2 linked regions of the Homo sapiens genome follow. The protein of the gene in region 1 interacts with the protein of each later gene in a pairwise test. Each region holds a gene or a part of one and is shown on either strand. Other genes may lie near its edges.

Region 1 (3,500 bases):
GTAAAAGGAGCACAGGCTTCTACTGCTTTGTATCAACTTCCAGCTTCATATTTAACAACTGGGAGCTAAGGCACCAACAATGAAAGGAAACACCACAGCTCAGAACTGGGGGCCAGCCTGGCTCACACTGCCTGGGTGGACCTCAGAACCCAGGCCACAGAGAATGTTCTAACTGCTGCTGTGGGAGCCAACAATGCAGGCCCTGTGAAACAGCCACCCATTCATGCTAGCTATCAATGATGAAAGAGAGACAGATGCCAAGGGCTCAATACCAGACACATGCCAAGGGGAAGGAAGTGGGTAGAAGGAAAGAATGGAAACTTACGGAGGAAGGAAATATGTGGAGGAAGAATCTCTGAGGGTCATAATCCTATTAGAGAAACCACAATCCACCAATATTTTGTGGAATATAAGAAATGATGGAAAGAAATTCTTATAATCATATGACTTAGCCAGGCAATTCCTAAGAAAGACACTTTGGTATCTGAAAAGCTTGCCGAGATCCAAGACCCTAAGGCTGGTGTTCTTGTTCCCATTAAAAACTACATCCAAGGCCAAGATGAGTTTTTTTTGGCAGATCAATGGGTGGGAAAAGAATTACTCAATGGTTTCTTCCTTCTGCAAAGTAAGGATAATATAAGGTCTCTTAGGGACAAGGTGCTAACAATAGAATATACTGATCAAGAAGCAGTTTTTAAGCAAATCACTTCTTTGTGCAATTCTGGGATCTTAATTGGGGGATTGTTGCGGTAATTAAATTATACGTGTAATGCATTAAGAACCGTGTCTAGCACATGCCACGCTCTCAATAGATGTTGAAATTGTTATTATCCTCCACACAGGGTCCGTTACAACACACTTTGCTCACAGATGAGACCAACTACTTCTCCGTTCCTCACAGGTCTGTCACAAGGATCATCAAAGATAAGGTACATGAAAGTACTCTGTAAGATATAAAGCACTTCACAAGCATTCATTACCTTCACCATCCTTATAACTCTGAACAGCAGAAGGAAGGGACAGAAGGTAATATGGTGAGAGGGCTGAAGTGAGAAACTCTGAGACAGGCCCCAGAACTGTCACTGTAACCACTCATCCCATGGACAAATGTATGAAGTGTCTGTCCTCAGGAGGCACCCAGGTGGATATGAGGATAAAGAGGCCGGGTGTGGTGGCTCACGCCTGTAATCCCAACGCTTTGGGAGCCTGTGGTGGGAGGATTGCTTGAGCTCAGGAGTTCAAGATCAGCTTGGGCAACATGGCGAGACCTCATCTCTATAAACAATTTAAAAATTAGCTGGGTGTGGTGGTGCACACCTGCTGTCCCAGCTACTTGGGAGGTTGAGATGGGAGGATAATTTGAGTCCAGGAATTCAAGGCTGCAGTGAGCTGTGATCATGCCACTGCACTCCAGCCTGGGAGACACAGCGAGACCTTGTCTCACCAAAAAATAAAAAATAAAAAAAATAAAGACACCAAGTCTGCCTCAATAGATGCTTTAAGACAGGCATAAATCATATGCTTGGCAGACAAAAAGGAAAGCCTGATTACTTCGAACCAGAAGGCTTCTCAGAAGAGGTAGCTTTCGAGCTGAGCACTGAAGGAGAAATAAGACCTTGTCAGGCTTACAGAGAAGTAAAAATACATTAGAAAAGGCAGAGAAGGGCCAGGTGTGGCAGTACATGCCTGTAATCCCAGCACTTTGGGAGGCTGAGAGAGGAGGATCACTTGAGCTCAGGAGTTAGAGACCACCCTGGGCAACAAACCTCACGCCCAGGGACTAGTGAAGTTGCAGAAGAGACCCTTAGGCCTTTCTCCTACACTACTTCCCATGTTCCCCGAGCTCTGCCCTCCCCACAGTCTGCCCTTCTAGGAGAGAAACAAGGAGATAGTGGCACACAGGGAGGGAGGCCTGTTTCTTATGCTACCCATACATCGAGGCCAGCTGTTCTACTCAATATGGCACACCAGCATGCTAATTCCCAATCCCATCAACTTGTGATCCTCATTCATTTTCCTTATACCCTGTGAGCTACTGAAGCAAGGGGTCTTCTGTGCTGCATTTTAATTACTACGATGAGCTATGGGATCTCAAGGGCTTTTGAATAATAACACTTCAACATTTACACATTTTCATTCACCTCTGCCCACTTAAATTAAGGCTAAAGAATGCAGCTCATGTGAGGAGTTGCTAATTCAAATCTCCCCTCAGGCCCAGAGAAGAAGGCTGGGGGACCCAGTGTCTCATATTGTTTTGTGTTCTCCGTATCATTAGGATTGGAATCCTCCAGCTGCCTAGTCACTATAGTGAGCATCAAAAACCATGGGTGTGCAGGAGAACTCCCAAGTACATGGCTGCTTTCAGAGGGTCACCAGGCTCTTCCTGGAAGGAAGGTCCTGACCAAGTTATTCAGACACTTGCTGAAGACTGCAATTTGATAAGACAAATAGACTGAGAGTTCATTTTGGTCCACGGCAACCTGAGAAATAGAATAAGAGCTAGACAGGGATTCAAGAAGCCCATGTTTTAGTTCCAGCCCCGTGACTTTTCCTCTCTAGGTCTCTTTCAAAAAATGAATGCCTGGGATGCATTCTCCAGGGCTTTGGGATTTAGGCTAGTTTGAATCTGTGATTAAAGGACCTCTCTATAGTCCCTACCAGTTCTATGATGTTAAGAACATGAATAGCAGAAAGGCTTTTGATGAAATGGTTTTAGCCTCATGGTTAAAAGTACAGGCTTTGGATTCAGTCACACTAGGGTTTAAGTCTCAGCTCCAATACCTAACCTTTTCTTCCTCAGCTCTGAAACAGGGACAAAAATAGCCCCTACCCTGAAGATCTGTCACAAGATATACAATGACATAATCAACATAAAGGAAATCAGCATGGCAGCTGGCCCGTGGGAAGCATTCAGTAAATGATAGCTGCTATCATTATCACCATTTTTCATTTACAGTCATTTCTGAACTCTTAGCTCATCATGCTAACACTGCACAGAGAGGCTGGTTTCCCTTCTCCTGACTCTGCAAAGGAGACTGATTTATTCTGAGTAGCCCTTTTAAAGAGGCAGAATAAAACTCAAATGCCAGGGAAGGCCAGTATTCTTATAAGTTTGGTTTGGGATTACATGTAATAGCACAGTGGAGAATCTTCAGATTAGGAGCCATCTGTACTCACCTTGGGGCCCATAGGTATAGCCCAGCTTTGGGACTTCGGACTGTTTCACATTGACTTGGTCTTGATTACCTCATTACATCTCCCCCTTCTTCTTGAACTCCTAAAGCGTCTGTTCTCTACCTGTCATTGGACCTCTGACCTCTGGCCCCCAAACTTCCCTAGTTTTCAATATACCAGCTTTGCCTGGATCAGCTTCCAACCAGCCACGATTTCTAACCATGCCTAATTTAATAGCATATTTGCTGTCTTTGCTCCCCTTGATCTTCTGCCAGTTCTTGTAGTGGGTATTCATAGCCATTTGCTTTCTCTTCTCCAGTTGCTGG
Region 2 (4,399 bases), on another chromosome or scaffold:
GCCTGTCTCAGCGCTACCCAGGGACAGCTTCGAGGGAGAACGGCTGGTACCGGCTGCTCTTTTTTTTTTTTTGAGATGGAGTCTCGCGCTGTTGCCCAGGCTGGAGTGCAGTGGCACAATCTCGGCTCACTGCAACCTCCGCCTCCTGGGTTCAAGCAGTTCTCCTGCCTCAGCCTCCCGAGTAGCTGGGAGTACAGGCACCCGCCACCATGCCCAGCTAATTTTTTTTGTATTTTTTAGTAGAGACGGGGTTTCACCATGTTGGCCAGGCTGGTATTGAACTCCTGACTTCGTGATCTGCCTGCCTTGGCCTCCCAAAGTGCTGAGATTATAGGCGTGAGCCACCGCTCCGGGCCCCTTCTGATTTTAGAGAGAGGTTTAATGTCCAGTAAACCTGCAGGTTTCCCGGAGTTTGCATCTTACTCTCTTTGGGCAGAACATGCCTGGAGGGACAGAGATGGCCTGTGGGCACCCACTCACTTCTACCCTGCATGCAGGGTGGCAGGGCTTGGCCAGGTTTTTGATCTGTTTTGTTTTTTTTTTTTTTGAGACAAAGTCTCGCTGTGTCGCCCAGGCTGGAGTGCAGTAGCACAATCTTGGCTCATTGCAACCTCCGCCTCCCGGGTTCAAGCGATTCTCCTGCCTCAGCCTCCCGAGTAGCTGGGACTACAGGCGCATGCCACCACACCTGGCTAATTTTTTGTATTTTTAGTAGAGACGGGGTTTCACCATGTTAGCCAGGATGGTCTTGATTTCCTGACCTCATGAGCCACCTGCCTCAGCCTCCCAAAGTGCTGGGATTACAGGCGTGAGCCACTGCGCCCAGCCCAATCTGTCTTTACTTGACGCCTGCTGTATGCCAGGCACTATTCTAGTCCTTGGGATGCAGCAGGGATGACAGTGAAATGGGCACAAGCCCCTGCCCTCAGGGCATCCCCTCAGGACACCTGGAGCAGGACAGCTGGGGGACTGGAGGGGCATCGAGGGCCGCAGAGACCCTGTGTCTGCCAACACCATGTCCTGGGCTCTGTCTGAGGCCCAGATGAGTTCTCCTCCCTGTCTCCCTGAGCTGTGGGCACTTCCCCAACGTGACAGAAGAGGCCATGGCGGGCACTGTCTGTCTGTCCCTGTGCCGTGGCCGGGCCGGAAGTGAGAGCACCACAGAGCAGGGCTGTGGGGTGGGGGGTGCTTTCTCCTCGCCAGCTGGGGGCTGTTGCAGGGCTGAGTGGTCTCCCTCCCTGGGTGACCAGCAGGTGAGCCTCCTTCCTGCCAGGTGGTGACCCCGCCAGAGAGAGCTGGGCCGCCCTGGGGAGGCTCCCAGGCCCCAGCCCAGGTGTGCCGCTCAGCCACACATTCCCCGAGGCCCGGGCCGCCTGCCCCATGGGCTCAATGAGGCTGTTGTGGGGGCCGCAGCAGCCGAGCCAACTGGGGCGCCGCTTCTATTTTTATTCTGGATTTGGGGACGGGTGGGCCAGCCCAGCCAGCAATGCCCTTTAAAGGCTCCCCTGTGCTGGCACTGCAGCCAGCGAGACCTTAAAAGGCAAAGCTCCCTCCTGTCGCCTGCGACCGCCTCTGCCTTCATCGCATCATGCCCGAGGGCCAGCGTGGACCCGTGGGGACAAGCGGGGCAGGGTCTGGGGAGCTGGCAGCGTACTTACTGCTCCTGGACCGCTCAGAGATGCTGAAGAGCTGCTTGTTGGGCAGATGTCAGTGGGCGGCCCCGAGATAGTGCCCTGGCAGCTGTCCTTGCCCCTGTAGCCCTGAGCCTGGCTCACAGGAGGTGCAAGACTAGGGGACAGGCCTCTGTGGGTCAAATGCACAAGGGATGTTCCCTCCTCCTCGGACGGCCATCAGGGGAGGTGCACTGGCAGGAGTGAGAGTTACTATGCCATGCCATTGCGCCTCCTGGAAGGAACCGCCCATTCCCCTGGAGCTGGGGTGCTCTCCCCTCTTCTGCTGGGGAACACCCTAAACGCTGTAGGGGAACTGTGACCTAGAACCGTGTGCCTCCCCGCTGCCCTCCCTCACGGGGGCCTGTGTCCCCTCCCACTCTCATGTTCTGCCTCGCAGAGCACAGCAGTACAAGGGCGGAGCTGGGGTCTCAATGGAGGCTGGGGACGTAGCTGTTGGGTGGGAGGTGCTTCCCCGACCACCTGAGCCTGTCTCTGGAGACAGCAGTCACCCCAGCACAGCCTCCTGGTGGGGGCTCCATTCCTGGGGACCCTCATTACCTTCCCCTCTTCACATGATGGTTGTTGAGACTCAGGCTGGGCATATCAGAGCTGCCTGCTTAGGTCAGTGAACAAGGTGAGGGTTGAACTGTGGTGCATGGCACCTCCAGAGCACTGGCCTTGCAGTTCCTGAGCTCAGGTGTCAAGTGGGGCTGCAGATCTGTCCCCAGAGCCACAGGGTGTGTTCTCATCCTGCACTGCCATACCTGGCCCCTCTAACCGCACCCCCGACAGGCACATTGTGGGTGAGGCTGACCCGGGCCACCGCTCCTGCAGCTCCAACACGATCTAGTCATGAAGGGGCAGGGGCAGGGTCCTCTGCAGAGGGGCCAAGCAGGGAGTTGCTATTTATAGGAAGATGCATGGCTTGGGTGGATTCAAAATCTTTTTTTTTTTTTGCATGTTTTTTTTGTTTGTTTGAGACAGAGTCTCACTCTTATTGTCCAGGCTGCAGTGCAGCATGATCTCGGCTCACTGCAACCTCCAGGTTGGTCTTGAACTCCTGACATCAGGTGATCCACCCACCTCGGCCTCCCAAAGTGCTAGGATTACAGGCGTGAGCCACTGTGCCTGGCCTTTGCATGTTTTTGTTTGTTTGTTTGTTTGTTTGTTTTTGTGACTGAGTCTCACTCTGTCACCCAGGCTGGAGTGCAGTGCCAGTGGTCTCGATCTCCTGATCTCATGATCCACCCGCCTGGGCTTCCCAAAGTGCTGGGATTACAGGCATGAGCCACCGCGCCCGGCCCCTTTGCATGTTTTTAATGAGCATTCCGCCTACTTTCCTCTTGCTGGCTGTGCCCTGTGTTCTGTGTCCCCAGGCTACTGTTCCCCAGGCCAGATCATTCCTGGCTGGCCAAAACACCCCTCAGCCACTGCCAGCCACACGTTGTGTTTCTGCCCTTCAGGGCCATGTTCACCGGCGGCATGCGGGAGGCAAGCCAGGACGTCATCGAGCTGAAGGGCGTGTCGGCCCGTGGCCTGCGGCACATCATCGACTTCGCCTACAGCGCCGAGGTGACACTGGACCTGGACTGCGTGCAGGACGTGCTGGGCGCGGCCGTGTTCTTGCAGATGCTGCCCGTGGTGGAGCTGTGCGAGGAGTTCCTGAAGGCGGCCATGAGCGTGGAGACCTGCCTCAACATCGGCCAGATGGCCACCACCTTCAGCCTGGCCTCGCTGCGAGAGTCGGTGGATGCCTTCACCTTCCGGCACTTCCTGCAGATCGCCGAGGAGGAGGATTTCCTGCGCCTGCCACTGGAGCGCCTGGTCTTCTTCCTGCAGAGCAACCGGCTGCAGAGCTGTGCCGAGATCGACCTGTTCCGCGCGGCCGTCCGCTGGCTGCAGCATGACCCGGCCCGGCGGCCGCGCGCCAGCCACGTGCTCTGCCACATTCGCTTCCCGCTCATGCAGTCGTCCGAGCTGGTGGACAGCGTGCAGACGCTGGACATCATGGTGGAGGACGTGCTGTGCCGCCAGTATCTGCTGGAGGCCTTCAACTACCAGGTGCTGCCCTTCCGGCAGCACGAGATGCAGTCTCCGCGCACCGCCGTGCGCTCGGATGTGCCCTCGCTCGTCACCTTCGGCGGCACGCCCTACACCGACAGCGACCGCTCGGTCAGCAGCAAGGTCTACCAGCTGCCTGAGCCGGGAGCCCGCCACTTCCGCGAGCTCACGGAGATGGAGGTAGGCTGCAGCCACACGTGCGTGGCCGTGCTGGACAATTTTGTGTACGTGGCCGGGGGGCAGCACCTGCAGTACCGCAGCGGCGAGGGCGCAGTGGACGCCTGCTACCGCTACGACCCCCACCTGAATCGCTGGCTGCGCCTGCAGGCCATGCAGGAAAGCCGCATCCAGTTCCAGCTGAACGTGCTGTGCGGCATGGTGTACGCCACGGGCGGCCGCAACCGAGCCGGCAGCCTGGCCTCCGTGGAGCGGTACTGCCCCCGGCGCAATGAGTGGGGCTACGCCTGCTCGCTGAAGCGCCGTACCTGGGGCCATGCTGGGGCCGCCTCAGGGGGCCGCCTCTACATCTCGGGTGGCTACGGGATCTCAGTGGAGGACAAGAAGGCCCTGCACTGCTACGACCCCGTGGCCGACCAGTGGGAGTTCAAGGCGCCCATGAGCGAACCCCGCGTGCTACACGCCATGGTGGGTGCCGGCGGCCGCAT

Evidence for each region. The genes of interacting proteins can lie anywhere in the genome.
Region 2: the proteins of ANKS1A (region 1) and KLHL26 interact in a two-hybrid assay, tested with the Homo sapiens proteins (one large-scale study listed by BioGRID).

What each region holds. Positions count from the first base shown.
Region 1 is NC_000006.12:35,011,255-35,014,754, reverse strand, and holds part of ANKS1A (ankyrin repeat and SAM domain-containing protein 1A), read right to left. Parts: intron 1-3,500. UniProt on the Homo sapiens protein: Regulator of different signaling pathways. Regulates EPHA8 receptor tyrosine kinase signaling to control cell migration and neurite retraction.
Region 2 is NC_000019.10:18,664,528-18,668,926, forward strand, and holds part of KLHL26 (kelch-like protein 26), read left to right. Parts: intron 1-2,873; coding exon of another isoform or gene 2,874-2,916; exon of another isoform or gene 2,917-3,049; coding exon of another isoform or gene 3,050-3,136; coding exon 3,137-4,399. UniProt on the Homo sapiens protein: May play a role in endo(sarco)plasmic reticulum (ER/SR) mitochondrial signaling. May be part of the ubiquitin-proteasome system (UPS) and affect ubiquitination and degradation of target substrates in cardiomyocytes.